3 linked regions of the Homo sapiens genome follow. Each later gene encodes a partner of the first gene's protein in a complex. Each region holds a gene or a part of one and is shown in the gene's direction. Other genes may lie near its edges.

Region 1 (7,263 bases):
AATCCAAGATATGCATCATTAGAGGCTTAAAGTCTGTTTAGGCCAGGCGCAGTGGCTCATACCTGTAATCCCAGTACTTTAGCAGACCAAGGCAGGAGGATCTCTGGAGACCAGGAGTTCAAGATCAGCCCAGGCAACATAGTGAGATCCCCATTCTTACACACACACATACACACACACACACACACAACCAGAAAAAAAAATTAGCTGGGCATGGTGGGGCACATCTGTAGTCCTAGATACACAGGTGGCTGAGGCTGGAGAATTGTTCGAGCCTAGGAGTTTGAGTTTGCAGCGAGCCATGATTATGCCACTGTACTCCAGCCTGGGTGACAGAGCAAGACCCTGTATCTAATAAAACAAAAGTCTGTTAAAATTTAGAAGAGGAAGGAAGGGCAGGAGGGAGAGAAGGAGGAAGGGAAAAAACTTACCCTAGCTTTTTAAATAAAACCTAAAATACCTTAAATGGAGCTGGGAGTGGGGATCCAGGGAAAAGGCAGGATTGAACCTCTGTGAAATTTGCCCATTCATTCTTTCCCACTCTAATCTCACCTTCATCCTGTATTTTTTAATTCTTATGCTCTTTTGTGGGTAGTAATTTACATTCTTTGTTCATTAAGTTAAATTCAGTAAATGCTTGTTTAGTAGCTATTATATGGAAATTATTATGCTAGGAAACTCATTCATTTGGTTGATAAATATGTGCCAGGCTAAAAGTTAGGTGCTAGGTACTGGAAATATGGAAACAGAATATGTTTTCTGCCTGCAAGTAGCCCATGGACTGGTGGGTGAATTAGCGTGATGTACAAATAATTACAGCACAGTATGCTAAGTGCAATAACAGAAGTGTAAGGAACAATTGTGTTAAAGATTGGGAGCATTTAACTTTCAGAATTCAGGAAAGGCTTTTATAAAGAGATGTTTAAAATAAGATTTTGTTCACTAGTATAGTGGCAAGTAAAAAAAATAATAATAGGCCGGGCACAGTGGCTGACGCCTGTAATTCTAGCACTTTGGGAGGCCAAGGCGGGTGGATCACCTGAGGTCAGGAGTTCAAGACCAGCCTGGCCAACATAGCAAAACCCCGTCTCTACACAAATACAAAAAACTTACCCAGGTGTGGTGGCGGGCACCTGTAATCCCAGCTACTCTGGAGGCTGAGGTAGGAGAATCACTAGAACCCTGGGGGCAGAGGTTGCAGTGAGCTGAGATCGTGCCACTGCATTCCAGCCTGGGTAACAGAGTGAGATTCTGTCTCAAATAAATAAATAAATAATAAAATAAGGTTTGAGTACTGTGTGGACAATCACCAAGGGAGCAAAGTGGAGATGTGGATGGAAGTGTAGGCATTTCATACAAGGAAGAAATAATTATAGGTGTTTTTATATGGTGTGCATTTTTGTAAAACAGCAGAACATGTTTAGGGAATTTCAAAGAGTGTGGTATAGAAAAATGCTTATTTATAGTTATTCATCCCGGCACTAAGAACAGTTTAGATATTTAATAAATTGCAACTGTGAGTATTAAAGTTATTTAAAAATTGCTAAAGGTGTTTTTCTTAAAAAATAGTTGCTACAGTCATAAAAACCAAAGCATTTACAAGATTGACTGAGTGGCTCACTGCTGAAGCTGTAAAGGGTATGCGAGGGTTCACTATACTGTCTACTTTTCTATATCTTTGAAACTTTTAATAATATAAAGTTTCAAAGAAAGTACTCACCAAAATTGTGTGTTTAAAATATGAGATCTGTAATACTGGGTTCCTGCTCCTAAAACCATATAATCCAGTTGGCGATGCAACAGAAGCAAATGGAAAAGCATATGAGAAAGTGTCCAAATCATGAAAGGAAGAAAGGAGAGGTCCCTATGGACTCTAGCAATTCATAAAATTTATATGAGAAGTGTACAGCTTAAAAAGGTAGGGTAAGGATTAAATAGCAGGAAAGAAATTGCTTTGGGAAAGGTAAAGAATGAGGAAAGAGCTAGACCAGTGGTTCTCAATTGGGGGCAATTTTGCCCCCCAGCAACATTTGGGACTATCTGGAGATACTTTATGTTGGCATAAATGGATTGGGGGGATGCTACCGGCATCTCAGGGGTAAGGGACAGGGATGCTCTAAACATCCTACAGTGCACAGGTCAGCATCCCACAGCAAAGAATAATCTAGCCTGAAAAGTCAAGAGTGCAGCCATTGAGAAATCCTGAGCTAGATGCACAGACTATATTTGGCAGGTGGGTTATTCTTGAAGTCTACAGCTTCAAGAGCTTCCTAAACCCCTTTTCAAATGTAGGCTAAGTTGAGAGTCTGGTCTGGGGAAAGGGTCCACAGCTTTTATCTGATTCTTAAAAAGATCCGTGGCCGAAAGAGGCTGAAGAACCAGGAAAACCAAGGGGTCAGGGACCTTGGCTGAAACAGATTATTTCACTCAGAAAATTATCAGGAGGTGAGGCTGGGTCTGTTTGCTGGAGCCAGATTATAGTAAATCTTGAAAACCAGGCAGAGATAGTTGGACATCAACCTGAGGTCTCTGTGGAGGCACAGAAGACCTATTAGGAAGATAATGGCAGGACAAAAACTGTGTCACAATATGAATGTCTTGAAGTGGCTTCTCTACTTCAACTGCCCAAGTTCCCTTCAATCAGGCTGCAAAACTTAGTATTCTTATGGAGTGGACTAAACTATATCCAATCAGTCACCAATCCATATTAATTTTTTTTCTCAAAAATATATTTTAGTCTTTCTTTCCCCGCTTATCAGGGTCAACACCCTATTCTAGGCCCAGCTCATCTTAATCTTGGACAACTGCAAAACCTTCCTTAGTGAGTCCTTGGCTTATTCATCTTTGCAAATTGAGCACTGGATATACTTCCTGGCATGTGGCAGCCATTCCGTAAGGTACACTCTCAAGTGAGGGTGGGAGGAGAAGGTTGTAGAATCCCCCCAAGTTACAGTGAAAACAAATTACAGAGTGATTTCTCATTAGTCCCATTATGGGGAACATGCCTCATCCACGTTCTTAATGAGGCTCCAGTAAGTCTGTAGACTGTTTGGGGCTGAGGGTGGGGCATTGGTGTGAAGCAGAAGTGGTGCTTCACAGTAAGTGTTGGGATAAATCCAACAAGCTGAGTTCCCCAGGGACTGTGTCTTCCACCTTCCCCGCAGCCACAGGAAGGTAATCACGGATAATCAGCCTGAGAAAGAGGATATGAGAGTTTTTTGAAGTCTACAAACCTGTTATTTGCCGATTCCAAACTCATTTCTTACCAGACTATCCTCAGGCTAAATTTCCTTAAATACCAAGTTTCGATTATCACTTTTCACACTTAAACTCTCAATAAGTCCCAACTCTAAATCTAAATTGTGCAGCTAATTTTTCTTGGCCGAGCACGGTGGCTCACGCCTGTAATCCCAGCACTTTGAGAGGCCGAGGCGGGCGGAGCACGAGGTCGGGAGATCGAGACCATCCTGGCTAACATGGTGAAACCCCGTCTCTACTAAAAGTACAAAAAAAAAAAAAAAATGCCGGGCGTGGTGCGGACGCCTGTAGTCCCAGCTACTCCGGAGGCTGAGGCAGGAGAATGGCGTGAACCCGGGAGGCGGAGCTGGCAGTGAGCCGAGATCGCACCACTGCACTCCAGCCTGGGCGACAGAACGAGACTCCGTCTCAAATAAATAAATAAATAAATAAATAAATAAATAAAAATAAATATATTTACTCTTCAATTTGGTCAATAAATAAACACGAGAGGGTACGAGAAATTACTTAAAAAAAAAAAATCCCCGCAGAATCCAACAATCTCTGAAGCCTTTAACACCTAACAACCCCAAGGGGAGTATTTCGGCTCTTGGACTGTATTTCAAAGCGATTGGACCCCAGACCATTCCCCCAGTTACTCAAAAGATCCAGCCTCTCCTCAGGTGTAGCCCGCTCTAGAAAGGCCGCCTCGGGAGTACCACCCACTCCTGACGGGGCGGGGAGTTCTCTCCGACCCCACCCGTTCCAAGGACGCAGCCCTGTGATTGGCCATGACGCGTGCCAGAGCTGCCCAGTCGCGGAAGAGCAGCTGTTTTGGCGTCTGTTTGCTGCGGTAGGAACATGGCGGATCGGCTCACGCAGCTTCAGGACGCTGTGAATTCGGTGAGGAATTTCATTCGATTAGCCTCTGTCTTTCTCTTTCTTGAGGTAAAGCAAGGGAGGAAAGGGGCCCAAGAGGCAAAACTTGAAAGTGGGGAGCGGACTGAGAGACAGGGCTTCGGCATAAAGCGCTCTCTCGGGAGGCGCCACCGCGAACTCGGAGGTTTGAGGCCGGCTGCCGGGCGGTGCTTGAAGGTGCGGGAGGGAGCAGACTCTTTCGCTTGAGGAGACCGGGAAGATCGTTCTTGTCCGGGTGAGGCCGCCAGGACTTGTGGGCTGCGCGGTCCTGTCGTGTTCCCTGAGGACAGTTTTATTTTCTTGTCAGTGGTGCTTACGGGTTCTCTTTCTTTTGGGGGTTGGGAGGAGAAGCAGGAGCTTTTTTCTTTCCTCATCAATTTTAATCCACCAAGGGAGATCTCATGCTCTGGATGACTGGGTTTTTGTAATGAAATGTCAGCCGAGAGTATTCCTTCACCAGCGCTTTCAGGTTGGTGCGGGAGCGATGCTGAGGTGAGGTGAGAGATTTTCTTTCATCTTAGCTCGTTCCTTTGGGCCCAGAGTATCCTTCCATCTCTTGCCTCTTGGCCATCCCTCAGAATACATCAGTTTGGGGACATCTTTATGATAGGAAATCTTCTAATCCTCGTATGTCTTTCCGCTTATTTGAGTCTTTTTTCTTTTCTTTTTTTTTTTTTTTTTACTTTGGAGACAGTGCCTTTCGCCCAGGCTGGAGTGCAGTGGCGCGATCTCTGCTCACTGCATCCTCCGCCTCCCGGGTTCAAGCGATTCTCCTGTCTGAGCCAAAGTAGCTGGGATTACAGGCGCCCTCCACCACGCCCGGCTAATGTTTGTATTTTTAGTAGAGACGGGGTTTCACCATGTTGTCCAGGCTGGTCTCAAACTCCCGGCCTCAAGCGATCCTCCCGCCTCGGCCTCCCATAGTGCTGGGATTACAGGTGTGAGCCACCGTGCCCGGCCTACAAGTCCTTTTTAATGTCTCCCCCAAATTCTACTCTCTATTAAAGGCCAAGTCTAGTAAGTAGCTCCCCAGCTTTGTTCCTTCTGGTTATTTTTCCTCCACACTATGCCTGAGTGGAAAGTAGAAGCAAAGCCAGAGGATGCGCAGTCATGGGCCCCTAATGAAGGGGTCATGTTCTGAGAAATGCATGGTTTTGGCGATAACTTTTTTTTTTGTTTTAATAAGTAGAAGTACAATGTAAAATAACGATAAAACAGTAATACATAAACCAGTAACAAAGTCATTTAGTATCATTATCAAGTGTCATGGACTGCACATAATTGTATGTGCTATGCTTTCATACACTGGCAGTGTGGTAGGTTGATTTACAGCAGCATCACCACAAGCACTAAGGAACGCATTGCGCTACAGCGTTAGTACTGCTACGATGTCACTAGGCAATAAGAATTTTTCAGCTTTATTATAACCATAGGGGACTGACATAATATGTGCATCCCGTTGACCAAGACGTCAGTGGGTATTCCCATGCGGCAATGGGTGTACTTATTACCATTACGAGTTAGATTGTTTTCTGCTAAATAGTTTTCCATTGATAGTTATGTTTCTCATTGTCTGATTGTGATTTAATGTCCTAGATAAGGGGCTAGAGAGAAAACATGCTGATAGGAAAACCTAAGTACCTGGTTTCCTTGCCAGTTTTTTTTTTCCTCACTGTAAGCTAATAACTTGGCATTTTTCTTAATACATCAGAATTTGTACACTTGAAGAGTGTGAATCTACTTGTGATAAAACTGATCTACCCTGGGTGAATAACACTAGTTTTTAAGCTGAGAGGACCAGCCTCTAAGTGTTGAATTCACCAAGATAAATTCTACCCTGCAGGGACTTGCCTGGGCTGCCAGCCAGCCTTCCTCAGGGAACTACTCCTTTGAGGTTTTACGAAATCAAATTGTAATGATGCTGCTGGATAGAAATCTTATTTTAGGGAAAATTTTGCATATTCATACATGTCTTGTAACTAGAAGGATAATAAGGACAGAGTGAATATGGCCTTAACTCCAGGTTAGGCATAATGATAATTGGATTTTGGAGAAAAGCCTTTAGGATAACTAGTATGAGTGCCTACTGTGTGTAAGCACCATCATGTTTACAAAGAGATACTCCTAAAGGAGGTTAAAAAATGTCAAATACTCAGGAGACATTTAAGTGATGGAAAAACAGTATGTGGTTAGGGAGTTATAATGAATTGAGTATTTTCAGCTTCAGGTTCTGATGTAAATTGGAATATGGAGTGATGTGAACCAAAATAGGGGGAATCTTCTTAGCATTTATCCTAATCAGAATTATTTGTATAACTTTTAACATTTGTTCTACCCTCTGAAAACCGTGAGTGCAGAAGCTATGTCGCATTCACTATGTCTCTGTAGTGTTTATATGCAGTACTTTAGTTATTTTCCATAAATTTTTGTTGACTAAATGGATCTTAAAAGCTTTTGAAGGATGGAAAAGATAGACACTGTGTTGAATATTTTTTTGTGTGTGTTTCCTCTATTACAACAATGCTATAATAGGAGAATGTATCCAATTTAAAAATGAAAAATGCTGCTTGGATTAATAGAGCTAGGATCAGGATCTAGGTTTGTATAGCATCTGAGCACTTATTGCTCCATTACAATTAGCAAAACCTGGGCAAAGCCATTTAGTCATAAGTGACTTTATGACTAGTTAGATAAATATGAAGGAGTAGTGGAAAACGAGTCAGTAGAGTTGACTTAGATTATTGAAAGCTTCAAAACAGCCTGAGTTGGAGATTTATCTTGAAGACAGTGGTGGAGTAAGCTTAAATGTTTTGATCAGGTTAAAATAAATAACCTGGTGAACTGGAAAACAACAAGAAGACTATTGTAATAATTCTGGTGTGAGATAATTGGTTGAACTAAGCAACAGTGATAGAAGGAAAAGAGAAAGATTTGTAGTATTAGCAGAATATGAAGATCAAAGGAAAGTAAGAATCTGAAGTTAGATTGGTTGACTAGGAGACTTTCAATACAAATTAAATATTAAAAAGAGGAAACAGTTGCCTTTGAGTTCTGTCATTGAAACAATGGCAGAGAAACCCAGTGGAAATACTTATTAGAAATAGGAGG
Region 2 (8,065 bases), on another chromosome or scaffold:
ATGTACAAACACCAGTGAGGTCACCGCTCACATTGAGGCTTAGATTATTGTAGCACCCACAAGGCTCCCTGTGGCGCCTTCTAATTCATAACCTTCCCATTGTGGGGAACTAATCACAGTTTATTTACGTACTCCCCTATTGCTAGGCACTTACATTGCTTCCAATCTTTCACTCTTACAAATAGTGCTTCAGTGAACTTCCTTGTACATACACATTTGTCTACATCTGATTGCCTCCTTCAGATAAACTTTTAGAAGTTGTGAATTTCAGTACGCTCATATCCACAGGGTCAGAGGGTATGAGCTTATTGAAATGCTCCCAGTTGGCCGGGCATGGTGGCTCACGCCTGTAATCCCAGCACTTTGGGAGGCTGAGGCGGGTGGATCACCTGAAGTCAGGAGTTCCAGAGCAGCCTGACCAACATGACGAAACCGCATCTCTACTAAAAATACAAAAATTAGCTGGGCATGGTGGCATGCAACTGTAATTCCAGCTACTCAGGAGGCTGAGGCACGAGAATCACTTGAACCCAAGAGGTAGAGGTGAGCCCAGATGGCACCATTTCACTCCAGCCTGGGCAACAAAGCGAGACTCTGCCTCAAAAAAAAAAAAAAAAAAAATGTTCACAGTTAATGACTTTTTTCATTCGTTGGTGTCCCAGCCGTGTTGTGTTTGTACAGTGCAATTAAAGTATTGTATTCATGAATTCCCACCCCCCAACCAGGTTCCGGGGCTTGCGTTCAGAACTGGAACCTTTCTGTATCCCCATCCCTACTTGAAGATGGGATTAAAAAATTGAGGTCTTCTACCTATCTTTGACATGTCAAGGTTAGTCAAAACCAATTTAAATTGGTTTCACTTTTAGAGTAAACAAGACTTAGTGCAAAGCCAAGCAGAACTATGAAACTCATCTCTAGGTACTTCTGAGATAACTGATAGGGTTGAATGAGTTCATATATGAGAAAGGGTTTTAAAAATTTCTGCCAGCGGCCGGGTGTGGTGGCTCATGCCTGTAATCCCAGCACTTTGGGAGGCCAAGGCAGGCGGATCATGAAGTCAGGAGTTTGAGACCATCCTGGCCAACATGGTGAAACCCTGTCTCTACTAAAAATACAAAAATTAGCTGGGTGTGGTGGCACCCGCCTGTAGTCCCAGCTACTCGGGAGGCTGAGGCAGGAGAATCGCTTGAACCTGAAAGGCGGAGATTGCAGTGAGCCAAGATCACGCCACTGCACTCCAGACTGGCAACAGAGTGAGACTCTCTCGAAAAAAAAAAAAAAAAAATTCCACCCGCCTGTTAAAGCAAACATAGGGGTCAAAGGAGGGTGGTTGTTTTTGTCACACTGGCTTTTTCTGTTAATCCCTGGAGCCCTCACATCCCTTATTAGGGTAAGTTTAGTAACCCTGTGCTTTAAATGGCCTGTCTCTCAGGGGCTTGCTTCTGACATGTCTGATGAGCGCATTCCTGCTGTTGCTCCTGGCTATTACAAGGTGTCGCTGTGGAAGACTATTCCTGTACAGCTGTGTGAACCTGCCTCGTCACGGCTTCCTCTGCAGTGCTCTTGAATATCCCGGTTCCTGCTTAGGCCACAGCAGTGAGTCCAGGGAGAAGCATCCTTCTACTCCCTCACTGTCCAGGTTGGCTGAAGATGCTCTGCACTTGACCTCCTGACACTAACTTCCTTGCCTTTTCCCATGGCAAGAGCAAGTCATGGACTCTGAACTACTTCCTCTCCCTTTTTTCTATTTATTTTATTTTATTTTATATTTGTGATGGAGTCTCGCTCTGTCACCCAGGCTGGAGTGTGGTGGTGTGATCTTGGCTCACTGCAACCTCTGCCTCCCAGGTTCATGCAATTCTCCTGCCTCTACCTCCCAAGTAGCTGGGAATACAGGTGCCCACCACCATGCCCGGCTAATTTTTGTATTCTTAGTAGAGGTGGGGTTTCACCATGTTGGCCAGGCTGGTCTCTTAACTCCTTACCTCAAATGATCCACCCACCTCGGCCTCCCAAAGTGCTGGGATTATAGATGTGAGCCACTGCACCCAGCCCTTCCTCTCCCTTTCTCTTTGGGGTTCCCTTCACAAACAGGTGAGGCAGCTTTTTCAAGGGCATTCCAAGCACAAAAGACCTTGTTGTACCTAAATACTATAAGGGACCTGTCATTGAGGACGAACCATCACAGCAAGAGGAATTATCTCGTGCCGCATCTTCGCATAACTGACAGGATCCCTGGCAAGGATGTCTCAATGCAGAAAGTTGGCTAAGTGAACTGCAGTATCTACCCTGGACCTAAAAGAACTTGCTAATGTTTTCAAGACTACAATTCAGAGGCTGTCTGATTTAATCTTTGCATTTACAAAAACACCCTTTTACGTACATTAAATGTGGAATAAAACTAAATATCCGTGTGTGTGTTGTGTATCCTGGTGTATATAGTATTATATTTTATGAAGTATTTCATTCATTCCAGAAATAGCTCTCCAGACCCATGGTGTACCAGATCTGTAGAAACTGAAATGCATTCATATGTCTGGGGGTGTGTGTAACGCTACCGTGTATTTGATGAAACTTTTCATTGACTTACTCCACAGATACTATTTTTCTATCTACTGGGGATACCAAAAAGAGCCAGTGCCCTTGAGGAACCAAGTCATGTCAGTGCTTCTTAGTTTTTAAAAAGTGGGTAAGTTGAGTACTTTCCAGATGTTTGTTTATTTTTCAAGACAGTCTTGCTCTGTCACCCAGGTTGGAGTACAGTGGCGTGATCTCAGCTCACTGCAGCCTCTGCCTTCTGGGTTCAAACAATTCTCGTGCCTCAGCCTTCTGAGTAGCTGGGATTACAGGTGTGTGCCACCATGCCCGGCTAATTTTTGTTTTTTCAGTAGAGAAGGGGTTTCACTATTTTGGCCACGCAGGTCTCGAACTCCTGACCGCAAGTGATCTGCCCACCTCGGCTTCCCAAAGTGCTGGGATTACAGGCATGAGCTACCAGGCATGAGCCACCGTGGCTGGCCCCACATTTTGTTTGAGACAGAGTCTGTTGCCCAGGCTGGAGTGCAGTGGTGTGATCTTGGCTCACTGCAACCTCCGCCTCCCGGGTTCAAGCAATTCTTCTGCCTCAGCCCCCTCTAGTAGCCAGGATTACAAGTGCGCGCCAGCATGCCCGGCTAATTTTTGTATTTTTAGTAGAGATGGGGTTTCACCATGTTGGCCAGGCTAGTCTCGAACTCCTGAGCTCAAGTGATCGCCCACCTCCGCCTGCTGAAGTGCTGGGATTACAGGCTTGAGCCACCACGTCCGGCCCAAATGTTTCTTAAAATAACCTGACCCATGCAAAATAAATTGCCTCCTATGTAATACTTTATTAAAAAAAAAAAAAGATACTGTACATCCGAGTTAGAAATTAAGAGAGAGGCAAGACCAGAATATGCCTGAGGAAGGCTTTGCTTATTTTGCTTATCAGAAATGAGAGAATTATCTCCGAATGGGCCAGTTTCCAACTTGGACCATGTACACCATGTACACAATGCACCGCATTCTGGGAGGGGCGAGGTTGGGAGCAGTAAATGACAAGTGTTTTGCCCGTGTTTCTTTTCTCCTCCAAGTGTGATGTAAAACTTTTCACATGTGCAGAAGCACGCAACCATAGCCACGTGCAGAAGCAGCCGTTTTTGCAAATGAAAATATTTCCCAGAAGCACAACAAATACAAGACTAACAGGTGTCGGGCAGCTCCAAGGCACACATGTGGTTCTCATCAGCTGTCTTCCTCCTGTTTTAAATCTAGGTCTTCCTGTAACAGTGGGAAAAAAAAGATTTCTCCCGAGGCCGCCGAGCTTGCCTTTCCATCCCGTCTCACAAGAGCATTTCCAACAGAGCTCCCAGAGAGAGGGGAGCAATTACCAAGGCAATAAACAGGGTGGAGGGAGGAGGGGCGCCCTTAAACTTGACATCTGCGGTTCTGGGCTTAACCCCGAAGTCTAGGTGACCTTGGGCCTCCGTTTCCTCCTCTGTGACGTGTTTGGTTAAGAGAATGAGCATCTCAGTTTTACAGAATCTCAAGGCAGAGGCGGGTAGAAGGGTCTTTCAATCACGGGGTTCTCTGCCGGTGGGGGGGCGGGGGGACTGTGCCCCCACAAGGGACGGCGGCAATGACTGCAGATTGGGGGAGGGGGCGCTTCGGAGGCCAGAGATGCCGCTCAACTTCCGACAGATCGGGGGACCCGCCCCGAAGACAGAGCGATCCCGCCCAAATGCCAGTGGTGCCGAGGTGGAGAAGCCGCCGCGTAGACGCAGATTTGCAACCTCCGGCTTTCCCAGCTACGGCGGGCGGCTTCTGCCAGAGGCGCTTTGCCGCCTCACGTTTTCGCGATCGGGGTCGCGCGTGGCGGTGCAGACCCCCGCCCTGCCACCACACCCATTCCCACACCCTCTGAGGGGCGGGGGGGCCGCGGCGACACCCCCGGACTCCGATGACCCTTCTGCGCGCAGAATCACAACGTGGACGTCTGGTTCCCTCGCCCTCACAAAAAACTCGGCAGCTGCTCAGCCTGCGACTCCCGTCCCCCAGTCACGCGCCGGGAAGGCTCTCCCAGAGGAAGGATTTTCCCGCCGCCCTCCCCGCCCCGAGGTAGCCGCTGCGAGCGTCCGGGTTCAAGGACTCTTTGCGCGCGCGCTTCCGTCAGAAAGCCCCGCCCCGTGACCTGGACGGGGGCCGTTGCCCCGCCCAACCTCCTCCCAACGGCTGCCTAGGCCGGGCGGCTGGGCGGGGCGTCACGGGCGGACGAGTGCGCCTGCGCGCGCTTGCGCGGAGGCGCGGGGCGTGGCACACGGGCAGCCCCGCCCAGGCCTGGCGTCTCCGCCCGCCCCATCTCCCAACCTCCTCAGCGTGGCGCCGACGCTGCGTGCGGCGCGGACTACCCAGAGTACTCCGCGCGGGGGCAGCTCACTGGAGTTTGGTTCTCGAGGCGGCGGCAGCGAGCGGCGGCGGCTCCGGCGGCTCCTCCTCCTCCTTTGGTGGCGGCGGCGGCCCGGGACCGAGACCCGGCCCCGGCTCCCCTCTCCGCCACCCCGCGCGCCCCCAACCCCCCGGCGCCGCGGGGAACATGCGGCTCCGGCTCCCGGAGGCCGGCGAGTGAGTGACCCCCGTCCCCCGCCTCAGCCCGCCCGCCCGCTGGCCCGGCCGCAACCCCCCGCCTCGCCCAGGCAATGACAGCGGCTCCGGCGTCTCCGCAGCAGATCAGGGACCGGCTGCTGCAGGCCATCGACCCCCAGAGCAACGTAAGTACCCGCCGCGCGAGCTGGGACGGAGGCCGCATGGGCCCGGGACCCTCCCCCTCTCCTGTACCCCTCGCCCACCGGGCTTCGGGGGACCCGTCTGGCGCCCACCTCCCCTCGAGGGCCGCTGCCATCCCTGCCTCTCGCTTCTCGGGCCCGGGCCGGGGGCAGGTCGGGCAGCCCGGCAGCGCTCGGTACGTGAGGCCGAGGCTTCCGTGCGGCCTGGGCGGAGGAAGCAGACGGGGGAGCTGAGGCTAGAGTTTTTCCTCCCTTTCTGCTCCAGCTCTACGACCCTCACTGCTCTGGACGAAGCTTCTCTGCCTCGCCCTCCCTCCGGGACCCGAGACCCCCGGGAAGCCCTCCCGGAGCGGGAAGGGGAGGGAGAAGGGCTGTGAAGCAACTGGTGTCCGGGGTATGACTCGGGGAACCTATGTCTCCCATGTCTTGGCCTCCTGGGTGATCAGGGAAGTCCTTCTTCCCCCTCCTCTCGGCTGGCAGCACCTTCCTGGCTTCGGAGAGAACCCCCAGTCTGTTTTGCCCCTGGCCGGGTACCTAGGGTACGTGGAGAGTCTGTCTCCCTTCTGTGACTAGACACGCCTTTGCCAAAACCCTCTTGGGGTCGCTGCCGACGATAGATGATCTCGGGGAGGGTGGGATCCTTCCTGTTGCCTTTCTGGGCCTCAGTACCCATTGCGTCTCTGACCAAGCCAGAGCTCCATTTTTTAGGTAGTGAATTAAAGAGGACTTTTCTCTCCCGTTTACCCAAGAGCTCTGTTTCAGTAGGCTCTTTCCCTCACCTGGGGGTCTCAGCCTGGTGGTTTTTGACCCAGACTGTCGGGGTTAACTCCAGAGTGTCGCTTCCTCGGGTGCCCCTTTGCTGAGGCTACTGTTTGCGGAGGGACCGCCCCCTCCCCTTCCGTGTGTGTGTGTGTGTTGTTGCGGGGGTGGGGGGGTGGGGGGGAAGACTGATCTATTCTCATATTTTCTCCAAGAGTTTCTTGGCAGTAGGGGTCATTCTTCCCGCGGCAGGAGCAGGGCGGTAGGAAGATGCAGTAGCATCCAGGTATGAGGGGAGGCCCTGCTTCCCAGGAAGTGGCCATTGAGATCACTTTTTAATGTGCTGTGAATGGAAGAAAAATATCATCTTTGGCTTGGCCAGGTAACTCAGGTTTCTCTCACCGTAGGGGTTTTTGCTTTCATTTTTACATGAGCTTGGCTGATTACTCTTAGCAATATGCTTCACTCTGATGATGTTTTGGGAATAATTCACATTGGCTTATACAATTTTTGGTTAAGACTGAAGGGTTATGAGTTTTTTCGAAGGCTCTGGTTGCTGTGATATAAGTACTTCTCTTATCCCTGGTATTCAGGTCCCATTAACATTGACTTGATGGTAATTGTCTTTAACAAATGTTATATTGTACATTTTTGTTATGACTTTGGGGGTGGAGTGGGCACAAGCTATATAAAACCTTCTAGAATGTCCTTTTTGCAGTAACTGGTGTCACTGCAATTTTAAGACTGAAATATTAGAGGATAAAACTAGTGACATGAAAAAAATAGCCTTGGTGACTTGTGCATCTTTTGTGGAGCCGGAAGGTAATTTTTTTAATTTCACGCACTCGCTTTCCTTCTGGAGAGTCTGAGAGGTTGCTGAGATATTAGCACTGATCCTTAATGCCACCTCAGAGAGCTTTGGGATCAGGCGGCACTTTGACAGGCGATCACAGTGTTGTAGATTAGGTCACTCCAGTGACCTCACAGTTTCCAGTATTGTATAGGGTTCTAATCTAAAGGGTTCCTTGAGGCAGAAGAAAGGAGGATGGAACAAATCTTAGTTTTGTGTGTCTTAGCACATGCAGAAATGCTATATAGGTCCCTGGTTATGTTAGCTGGCATGGAATTTGCATTTCATACCGCTTATTTTCAGGGACTTTAGTGATGATCTTGGGCAGAGTCCTACTAACATGGGGTGGATGGATTTGGGAAGTTATCTTCTTGACTATGAACAATGAGGAAAGTGCCTCCTTTGTGATTGACCCTCTGAGCGCTGTTATGGGCCATTTGACAGGACCGTTTGCTTTGAGCAAACACCATGCAGAAACACAGAGCCGCGGTGGACAGGATTGCTGGCGGAGGTGATGGTGAGAGCCGGGCATGTCAGTGCGTCTGCAGTTTCTCTTGGATCAATGTGGGCTCAGGTGAGAGCAGGTGGCTCCAGCACAGGTGCTGCCGGCGTGCCGCTCTCTCCTCTCTGCCCTGCCCAATGATGAACTCCACTACTGGATATTTAGTTGACACATATTTAAGATGCTCATGAAAAAAAAAAAAACGGGGACAGTGTTGAAGAGCCAACACTAAAATTAAACCTCTTCTGAGAGAAGCGGCAGAGAATTGTGTCATGTAATGCTTACCTTTATGGGCATGCAATTATGGTTAACAAACTTAGCTATTGCTTGCAAAATCGGTGTCAGGAACTGACCTAATATCCACAAGTATCTGGAAAGTTAGGGAAGTGACGAAGTCGTGTTTACCAACCATCTCCTTGACAAAGGAATTCTTAGGAGGAAAGTAGTTTCTGTGCTCTCACTTTTAGCCCCTGGAGTATGCATTTGAATTCCTATAGCAGCAGGCTCAGAGTTAATAATTTCTGCCAATTCAGTAATAAAGTAAATCCTCTACTCTCCTTTTGAAAAGGCTACTAACAGTTTTTCAGAGCAGTTGGAGCTTTTCTTTTCGTCGTGCACCCTTTCAGCCCAGGGTGTTGAAAATCTCTCCGAAGC
Region 3 (7,393 bases), on another chromosome or scaffold:
GAGCCATAAAATAAAATAATTGATAAACTTGTCATCATCAAAATAAAAAAACTCTGCTTGCTGAAAGACACTTAAAAAATGAAATGATTAACCACAGACTAGGAGAAAATATTTGTAAAAGACATATCTTATCAAGGACTTATATCTTGTGTGTATTTGTGTGTGTGCACCCTTACAATTCAATAGTAAGAAAACATGCCAATTTAAAAAATGGGCAAAAATTTTGAACAGACAGTTCGCCAAAGAAAAGATATACATGGCCAGTAAACACATGAAAGATACCCAATACTAAGGAAATGCAAATTAAAATCATTATACAGATATTAGAATAGCAAAAAGTAAAAATTAAAAGGATAACACCAATTTGCAGATTGAGGGCAACTATACCTCCGATAGATTGCTGAGAAATGAAAAATAAGCAGCCTCTTTAGAAAACTGCTTGGTAGTTTCTCATATAGTTAAACATATAATTATTATAATGTCCAGCAATTTTGTCACTATGTTGTTATCCAAAAGAAATGAAAACATATGTCCATACAATTGACTTGCATGGGAATGTTTATAGTATCTTTGTTAAGAATCACCTCAAACTGAAATAACCCAAATGTCTATTAACCAGTGAATGGATACATGAATTACAGTATATTCATACAATGGAATATTCCTTATCTGTAAAAAGGAACAAAGTATTATACATTGAACAACATTGATGGACTTCAAAAGTATTATGCTAAGTGAAAGGAACCAGACACCAAAAACTACATACTTTCTAATTTCATTTATATGACATTCTGCAAAAGGTAAAACTATATGAACAGGGATCAGATCAGTGGTTACTAGAGGATGGGGATAAAGGGAAGGAATTGAAATAAAAAAAAGTTGTTTGGGGTGATGAAATATTCTACATCTTAATCCGGGTGGTAGTGGTTTTATGTCAGTATGTATTTATCAAAACTCTTATAACTATTCACCTAGAGTTAATTTTATTCTATGTAAAGTATCCCTCAATAAATCTACATTTTAAAAAATCAATAGGGTGGAAACTAAAAATTTCTGCTTGTAATTTAGGTTCAAATGACAGCGATGTTTTTTATAATGTGCCAAGATCCTAAGGGAGGCAAGAAGTCGGTTACCGTGTGTCTTTGCCCATTTCATCTCCCCTGCTCTTTCTTTCTTTGCTCACTAGCTATGGAGCACACAGGCTGCCTTCCTCTCTCTAATTCAGAAAGATCATGGCAGCCCCACGCTCTTTGCATTTGCTGTCTCCCAGATCTCTGCAGAATTCACTCCTTCATATTTTGTTTCCAAAGTTAACCTTCTGTGAGAGGCTACCCTGACCACCCTGTGTAAAGTAGCTATTCCCCAACCCACGTCACTATCACATTAATCTGTATTATACTTTCCCCCATAGCCCTTACCACTATTCGAAGTTTTTACTTGTTTGTATACTTCTTGTCTGTGTCTCTCTAGAACACCTTCTAGAAAGAACACTTTTTTCAAAGGCCCCACTGGCTTTTGTCTGTCTTTTTAGCCTTCTAGACCAGTGCCGGCACAACAGACACACAATATACAGATTTATTCAACGAGCATATTCCTTGTTAAGCTGTAGTAGGCATCTTTAAGTAATAAGCTTTCCATTGAGATTTTGCCAATATAGTCATATAATTAAATGTTTAACACACATCATATTGTCACTAGCCCTTCTCATGATATGGACTTCATATCCATTATTCATTTGAAGTTTATTGGAAAGAACACTAGATTGATAGTCAAGAGTCCAAGATTCTAGCCTTGATTCTGCTACTAACTGTTAAGACACTGCCCCTTTGGGCCCAGTAATTCTATTTCTAGAAATTTATTTCAAAGAACAAAATTGGACACATGCACAAACATATATGTACTGGGATCTCATCATCCTGTGTAGTTACACTGGATCAAATTTGGAGAAAAATAATTTAACACAATGAGGATCTGGCTAAAGAGACTGTGGTATAACCACCAAAGCCACGCTATGAATTTATTTGAAAGTGATGATTGTATTCATTTTGTTTCTTATTCAATAAACACTTATTGAGTATTTGCCAATTTCAGGCACCGTTGTATGTAGGTTCAAACACAACAGCAGTAAATGAAACAAAGGTCCCATGCTCATAAACCTGATATTTTTGATGGATAAGAAAGGCAATAAAATACATAAATATACTATGTAAGATGATTTCAGATGATGAGAGGTTCTATGAAAAAAAGATAATACATAGTAAGGGTTTCAGGGGCATCTCCCAAGAGAAAGATTAGGGATGCGCTATTTTGCATAGAGTAGTGTAACCCCAGAAGAACTCTTTGAAGTCACATTTGACCAGAAACCTGAATGAATTGAGGAAATGAAGCCGGGCGCGGTGGCTCACGCCTATAATCCCAGCACTTTGGGAGGCCGAGGCGGGCGGATCACGAGGTCAGGAGATTCAGACCATCCTGGCTAACACGGTGAAACCCCGTCTCTACTAAAAATACAAAAAAATTAGCTGGGCGTGATGGCGTGTGCCTCTAGTCCCAGCTGCTGGGGAGGCTGAGGCAGGAGAATGGCGTGAACCTGGGAGGTGGAGCTTGCAGTGAGCCGAGATTGGGCCACTGCACTCCAGCCTGGGTGACAGAGCAAGACTTCGTCTCAAAAAAAAAAAAAAAAAAAAAAAAAAAAAAAAGGAAAGAAGGAAATGAGACGTGTCAATATCTGTGCAAAGAGTTCCAGGCAAATGCATTGGCCCCAAGGCCGGGATGTACTTGGCAATTTTGTAGGGCCTGTGATATAGGCCAGGGGAAGGATGTCAGATTTTATTCTAAAAGTCATAGAAAGCCTTGGAGGATTTTGAATAGAGGAGTGATAAGACCGGTCTTATATTTTAAGAAGGTGTGGTAAATAGACTAAGGGAGGACAAAAAATCAAAGAAGTCCAGGTGAGAGATAATGGTGGCATGGCATAGGACCATAGCAGTGGGAACGGTGGTCAGTCATATTTGGAACTTTATTTACTTATTTTTAAATAGATCTAATGCAAAAGGCTGGTATGGTAGTTTCGGTGGGGTATGTGAGAAAGGAGAAAAAGGTGATTCCTTCGATTGAACATTTGCAATTGAGTAAAGTGCAACTGGGGAAAGATGTCTGTCACCACTGGATATGAGGGTCTGAAGTGCAGAGGAAACGGTGTTCCAGGGCCTGCATGTAATCATCCAGCTGATATCTGACTGAGAAGTGGTTGGAGAACTGAGTCCTGGGGCAATCCATTAATCAAATGTGCCAAATGCTGCTGACAGATGGAGTAAAATGAGGACTGGGAACGACCATTGGAAGTCACTGGTGCAGGATACATTGGGGTCAGCGGTGAGGAGAAAAGCTGGATTGGGTTATGCTCAACGTAGATGGATTTCTTCAGGAAATAAATTGATACGTGCGAGGGATTTAAAATGGGGGAGTCCGGAAGTGGTGGTTCACGCCTACAATCCCAGCACTTTGGGTGGCCGAGGCGGGCGGATCACTTCATATCAAGAGCTCGAGATGAGCCTCGCCAACACGGTGAAACCCTGTCTCTACCAAAAATACAAAAAAAAGAAAAAAAAATAGGTGAAACCCCAACTATTCGGGAGGCTGAGGCACGAGAATCGCTTGAATCCCGGAGACTGAAGTTGCAGCGAGCCGAAATCGCGCCACTGCAGTCCAGCCTGGGCGAAAGAGAAAGACTCCGTCTCAAAGAAAAAAACAACAAAAAAACCCTGCATGTCTATATTTTCGAATTTGTATGTAAGACGTCTTAATTGTATGCGTTAAATTAAAAAAGGACAAAAGGAATGGAACTACCAGCAGCGACTAAGTCAGTAAAAGAGTGGTAATGGGGAAGGGGGTGGAATATACGCAGGCGCAATAGCAAGCGTTTCTTTTGGAGGTTATTTTCGTGTCATAAATTTCTAAATTCACGTTAAGTCTTACAAGAGCATGTTAAACATTAAAACATAAGATTGTTTCTGGTCAATAAGGGGTCTATAAAAAATAAAGCAATAAGGTGTCTTGTTCAATTTTATGCCTTAATTCAAAAAGAAACGAAGAAACGGAACCCTCAGCTACGACTTTTAAAAGTCAGTAACGGGTGGATGGGAGGAGTCAAACATACGTAGGCGCAACAGCGAGGGATCGGTCTGAGGCGGAGCTAGAATTTCGTTAAAGGACAGCTCTTACAGCCAATCAAGGACAGAGTCGGTGGCTTCTTCCCGGAGGAGACCGGAAGTTGGTTTCGGCTGCAGAGGGGAAGGCGGCTACCAGTGTAAAGCCAGAGCTGAGGTAAGTGGGCGGCAACGGTTTGGGGCCGCCGCCTGTGTGCGTTTTTTTCTTCCGGACCCCGCAGCTTCCTCTGTGCTGGGCTGGGAACTGGGGAGGCATGGCTGAGTTCGGCCTCCAAAGGCGGTCTTTCGTCTTTCTCTCCCGAGTCTCTCCGAGAGTGCGGTCTCTCCGAGAGCGCGGAGGCCTCGGGGTGGACAGCCTGGAGGAGGGGGCTCTAAGCGTGGCAGTCTCGGGGCTTCCTCCGTGTTGGGACGCCGAGCCGGAGTGGAGGTTGGGAGACCTGGCGTCTAGTCCCCGCGCCGCTGTTTTTCTAAGCTGTGTGGCCTTGGGCGAGTCATTTGCCCTCTCCGGCTCTTTGTAACATGAGAGTAGCCCTCCCTGCCCTTCCTTCTTCTGGGAGCAGTTATGAAACAGCTGAGGTATGGGGGCAGGCGAGGGCGGTAGATCCCAAGCCTAATCGTCAGGTCCATCTGGAGAGGTTTTAAAAGCGACATTCTAGGGCCCATTCACAGTAGACAGAATGAATCAAATCTCTGGGGCTGGGACCCTGGAATGTCTGTCGTCTTCTGGTGAAGCTCCTTCTCCCCCAGTAGAACAAACACTAGATGTTGGATCTTGAGTTAAGAACCAGCTCTGATGCTTGGCTCTGCTTTTATTAAAAATAAGACCTCCATCACCTTTGAAAAGTTCCATCTAGAGAGACAGTAGAGAAAGAAATATAATTTTTGTGATATGCCAGTCCTTATTGTACAGTTAGATGCTTCTCGGCTTAGGGATATAAGAGAGCTTGCCCTTTGGAGCTAAAGGGACCTGGGATAAGAATTCCTGTTGTGCCATTTATTAACCTTTTGATCTGGGGCAACACTTCCCCTCATTGAGACTTCGGATCCTCACTTCTAAAATGAAATTGATAATAGAACTTAATTCGTGGGACCGTGTGGTGGCTCACGCCTGTAATCCCAGCACTTTGGGAGGCCGAGGTGGGCGGATCACTTGAGGTCAGGAGTTCCAGACCAGCCTGGCCAACATGGTGAAAACCTGTCTTTACCGAGAAATACAAAAATTAGCTGGGCGTGGTGGTGCGCACCTGTAGTCCCCAGCTACTCAGGAGGCTCAGGCAGGAGAATCCCTTGAACCCGGGAGGCAGAGGTTGCAGTGAGCCCTGATGGTACCACTGCACTCCAGCCTGGGAGACAGATTGAGCCCTTGTCTCAAAAAACAAAACTAACAACAAAAACCCCAAAAACCTTAATTCATAGAATTGTTAATGAAGATTATGTTACAGAGGCCATAAAAAATGGTACCTGTCATGTAGTTGGCCTTAGGAAAATGGCAGCCGCAATACAGGAATGCACATCGTGTAGGAAAGTACAGAGCAGCACTCCTCACCTAAAAAGGTTTGAGTGGGATGAAACGTGAGCTGTCAAAAATTGTATTTTCTGCCGGGCACGGTGGCTCACGCCTGTAATCCCAGAACTTTGGGAGGTCGAGGCAGGTGGAACACGAGGTCAGGAGATCGAGACCATCCTGGCTAACACGATGAAATCTCGTCTCTACTGAAAATAGAAAACATTAGCCGGGCGTCGTGGCGGGCGCCTGTAGTCCTAGCTACTCAGGCGGCTGAGGCAGGAGAATGGCGTGAACCCGGGAGTCCGAGCTTGCAGTGAGCCGAGATCGTGCCACTGCACTCCAACCTGGGTGACAGAGCGAGACACTGTCTCAGGGAAAAAAAAAATGTATTTTGAAGTACCAGATCACTGTTAATTCTTTGATTTTGGTAATTGTGCTTTGGGTAGAAGAAAACATTCTTGTCACGAGAAAACACACTGAAGTATTCAGGGGTAAAGGAATGAAAAACCAATAAAGCAAATGAAGGAAAATGTTAACATTTGGAGAATCTGAGTGAAGAATATGAAGTGTTTTTTGTGTATTCATGCACTTTTTCTGTAATCTGAATTTATGTTAAAAGTTTTAAAATGTCTGGGTGTGGTGGCTCACGCCTGTAATCCCAGCACTTTGGGAGGCCAAGGCAGGAGGATTGCTTGAGCTCAGGAGTTTGAAACAAGCCTGAGTAACATGGCAAAACTCTGTCTCTACAAAATATACAAAAATTAGCCGGGCTTGGTGACATGCCTGTAGTCCCAGCTGCTTGGGAGGTTGAGGTGGGAGGATCGCTTGAGCCTAGGAGGGCGAGGCTGCATCATCCTATGCACCACTGTGGCATAGTGGAAACTCAGGGCTGCGCCACAGCTGCCCTCAGTACCTCACGAATTCTAAGTATAATATTGCTTCTAGTAGGATACTTGCCCCACCCGATGTTAGAGTGTGTTATATCTTGAAACTCTGATAACACCAATCTAAAGGAGCACTTAAGGATCTTCTCATTGGATGGTATACCTAGGCTTAAGGTAGAATAAGTAGAGGTTATTATGGCCATAGATACTGGGTTTGAACCTGGGGTTTGACATTTCTGTGATAGTTGTAGAGAAGTTAATGTGTCCATACAGGCCAGGCGTGGTGGCTCACGCCTGTAATCCCAGCACTTTGGGAGGCCAAGGTGGGCGGATCACCTGAGATGGGGAGTAAAGAGACCAACCTGGCCAACATGGCAAAATCCCGTCTCTACTAAAAATACAAAAATTAGCCAGACATGGTGCACGCCTGTAATCCCATCTACTTAGGAGGCTGAGGCAGGAGAATTGCTTGAGCCCAGGAGGCGGAGGTTGCAGTGAGCTGAGATCTGAGATTGCACCACTGCACTCTAGCCTGGACATCAGAGCAAGACTCCATCTCAAAAAACAAACAAAAGTTAATGTGTCCATATAAAATTGCATAGTATACTGTGACAAAAAGGGTATGGAACTGAATCATCATTTCATTCAGGAACTTTGGATAATAATGTGTTTAGGATTTAGCAATGTTAATTTTGTCAGAGTGTTTATGAGAGATACAAGTAAGTGTTTGCTATTGGAAATAAATCTATAACATAAAACAAAAGTGATTGTGATATGAGATTGGGAGACAGCCTGTGTAGTTTGGTTATGGAAGAGTAAAGAAATGGGGCATA

Evidence for each region. Proteins that work in one complex are often made in the same cells at the same time.
Region 2: the proteins of MED21 (region 1) and MED26 are in contact, whole or in part, in a cryo-EM structure (PDB 7EMF), measured with the Homo sapiens proteins. Residues at the interface, in NP_004255.2 of Homo sapiens: Ala2 (codon at 4,102), Asp3 (codon at 4,105), Arg4 (codon at 4,108), Leu5 (codon at 4,111), Gln7 (codon at 4,117), Asp10 (codon at 4,126), Ser14 (codon at 4,138), Gln18, Asn21, Gly24, Val25, Gln28, Cys29, Tyr54, Leu57, Phe58, Leu61, Arg64, Thr65, Lys67, Asp68, Val71, Leu72, Asp74, Ser75, Leu76, Pro77, Ser78, Glu79, Glu80; in NP_004822.2 of Homo sapiens: Ser481, Arg482, Asn483, Glu484, Ile485, Ser488, Tyr489, Ser491, Arg492, Ser495, Leu496, Ser498, Ser499, Ser500, Leu528, His529, Ser535, Pro537, Thr538, Asp539, Leu540, Pro541, Gln549, Asp551, Leu552, Ile555, Gln556, Trp560, Gly562, Val563.
Region 3: the proteins of MED21 (region 1) and MED7 are in contact, whole or in part, in a cryo-EM structure (PDB 7EMF), measured with the Homo sapiens proteins. Residues at the interface, in NP_004255.2 of Homo sapiens: Asp3 (codon at 4,105), Leu5 (codon at 4,111), Thr6 (codon at 4,114), Leu8 (codon at 4,120), Gln9 (codon at 4,123), Val12 (codon at 4,132), Asn13 (codon at 4,135), Leu15, Ala16, Phe19, Ile23, Ile62, Ala66, Ile69, Asp70, Ile73, Asp74, Leu76, Pro77, Ser78, Glu79, Ser81, Ala83, Gln86, Ser89, Leu90, Leu93, Glu96, Asn97, His98; in NP_001094286.1 of Homo sapiens: Phe72, Asp73, His74, Lys75, Leu78, Arg79, Asn82, Ile85, Leu86, Phe89, Leu92, Leu93, Leu96, Phe116, Val119, His120, Ile123, Asn124, Tyr126, Arg127, His129, Gln130, Arg132, Glu133, Leu135, Arg136, Met139, Glu140, Gln142, Lys143.

The regions. Positions count from the first base shown.
Region 1 is NC_000012.12:27,018,482-27,025,744, forward strand, and holds the start of MED21 (mediator of RNA polymerase II transcription subunit 21), read left to right. Parts: upstream 1-4,076; 5' UTR 4,077-4,098; coding exon 4,099-4,140; exon of another isoform or gene 4,141-4,390; intron 4,391-7,263. UniProt on the Homo sapiens protein: Component of the Mediator complex, a coactivator involved in the regulated transcription of nearly all RNA polymerase II-dependent genes.
Region 2 is NC_000019.10:16,625,092-16,633,156, reverse strand, and holds the start of MED26 (mediator of RNA polymerase II transcription subunit 26), read left to right. Parts: upstream 1-4,952; 5' UTR 4,953-5,213; coding exon 5,214-5,285; intron 5,286-8,065. UniProt on the Homo sapiens protein: Component of the Mediator complex, a coactivator involved in the regulated transcription of nearly all RNA polymerase II-dependent genes.
Region 3 is NC_000005.10:157,139,753-157,147,145, reverse strand, and holds the start of MED7 (mediator of RNA polymerase II transcription subunit 7), read left to right. Parts: upstream 1-4,280; 5' UTR 4,281-4,326; intron 4,327-4,370; exon of another isoform or gene 4,371-4,745; intron 4,746-7,393. UniProt on the Homo sapiens protein: Component of the Mediator complex, a coactivator involved in the regulated transcription of nearly all RNA polymerase II-dependent genes.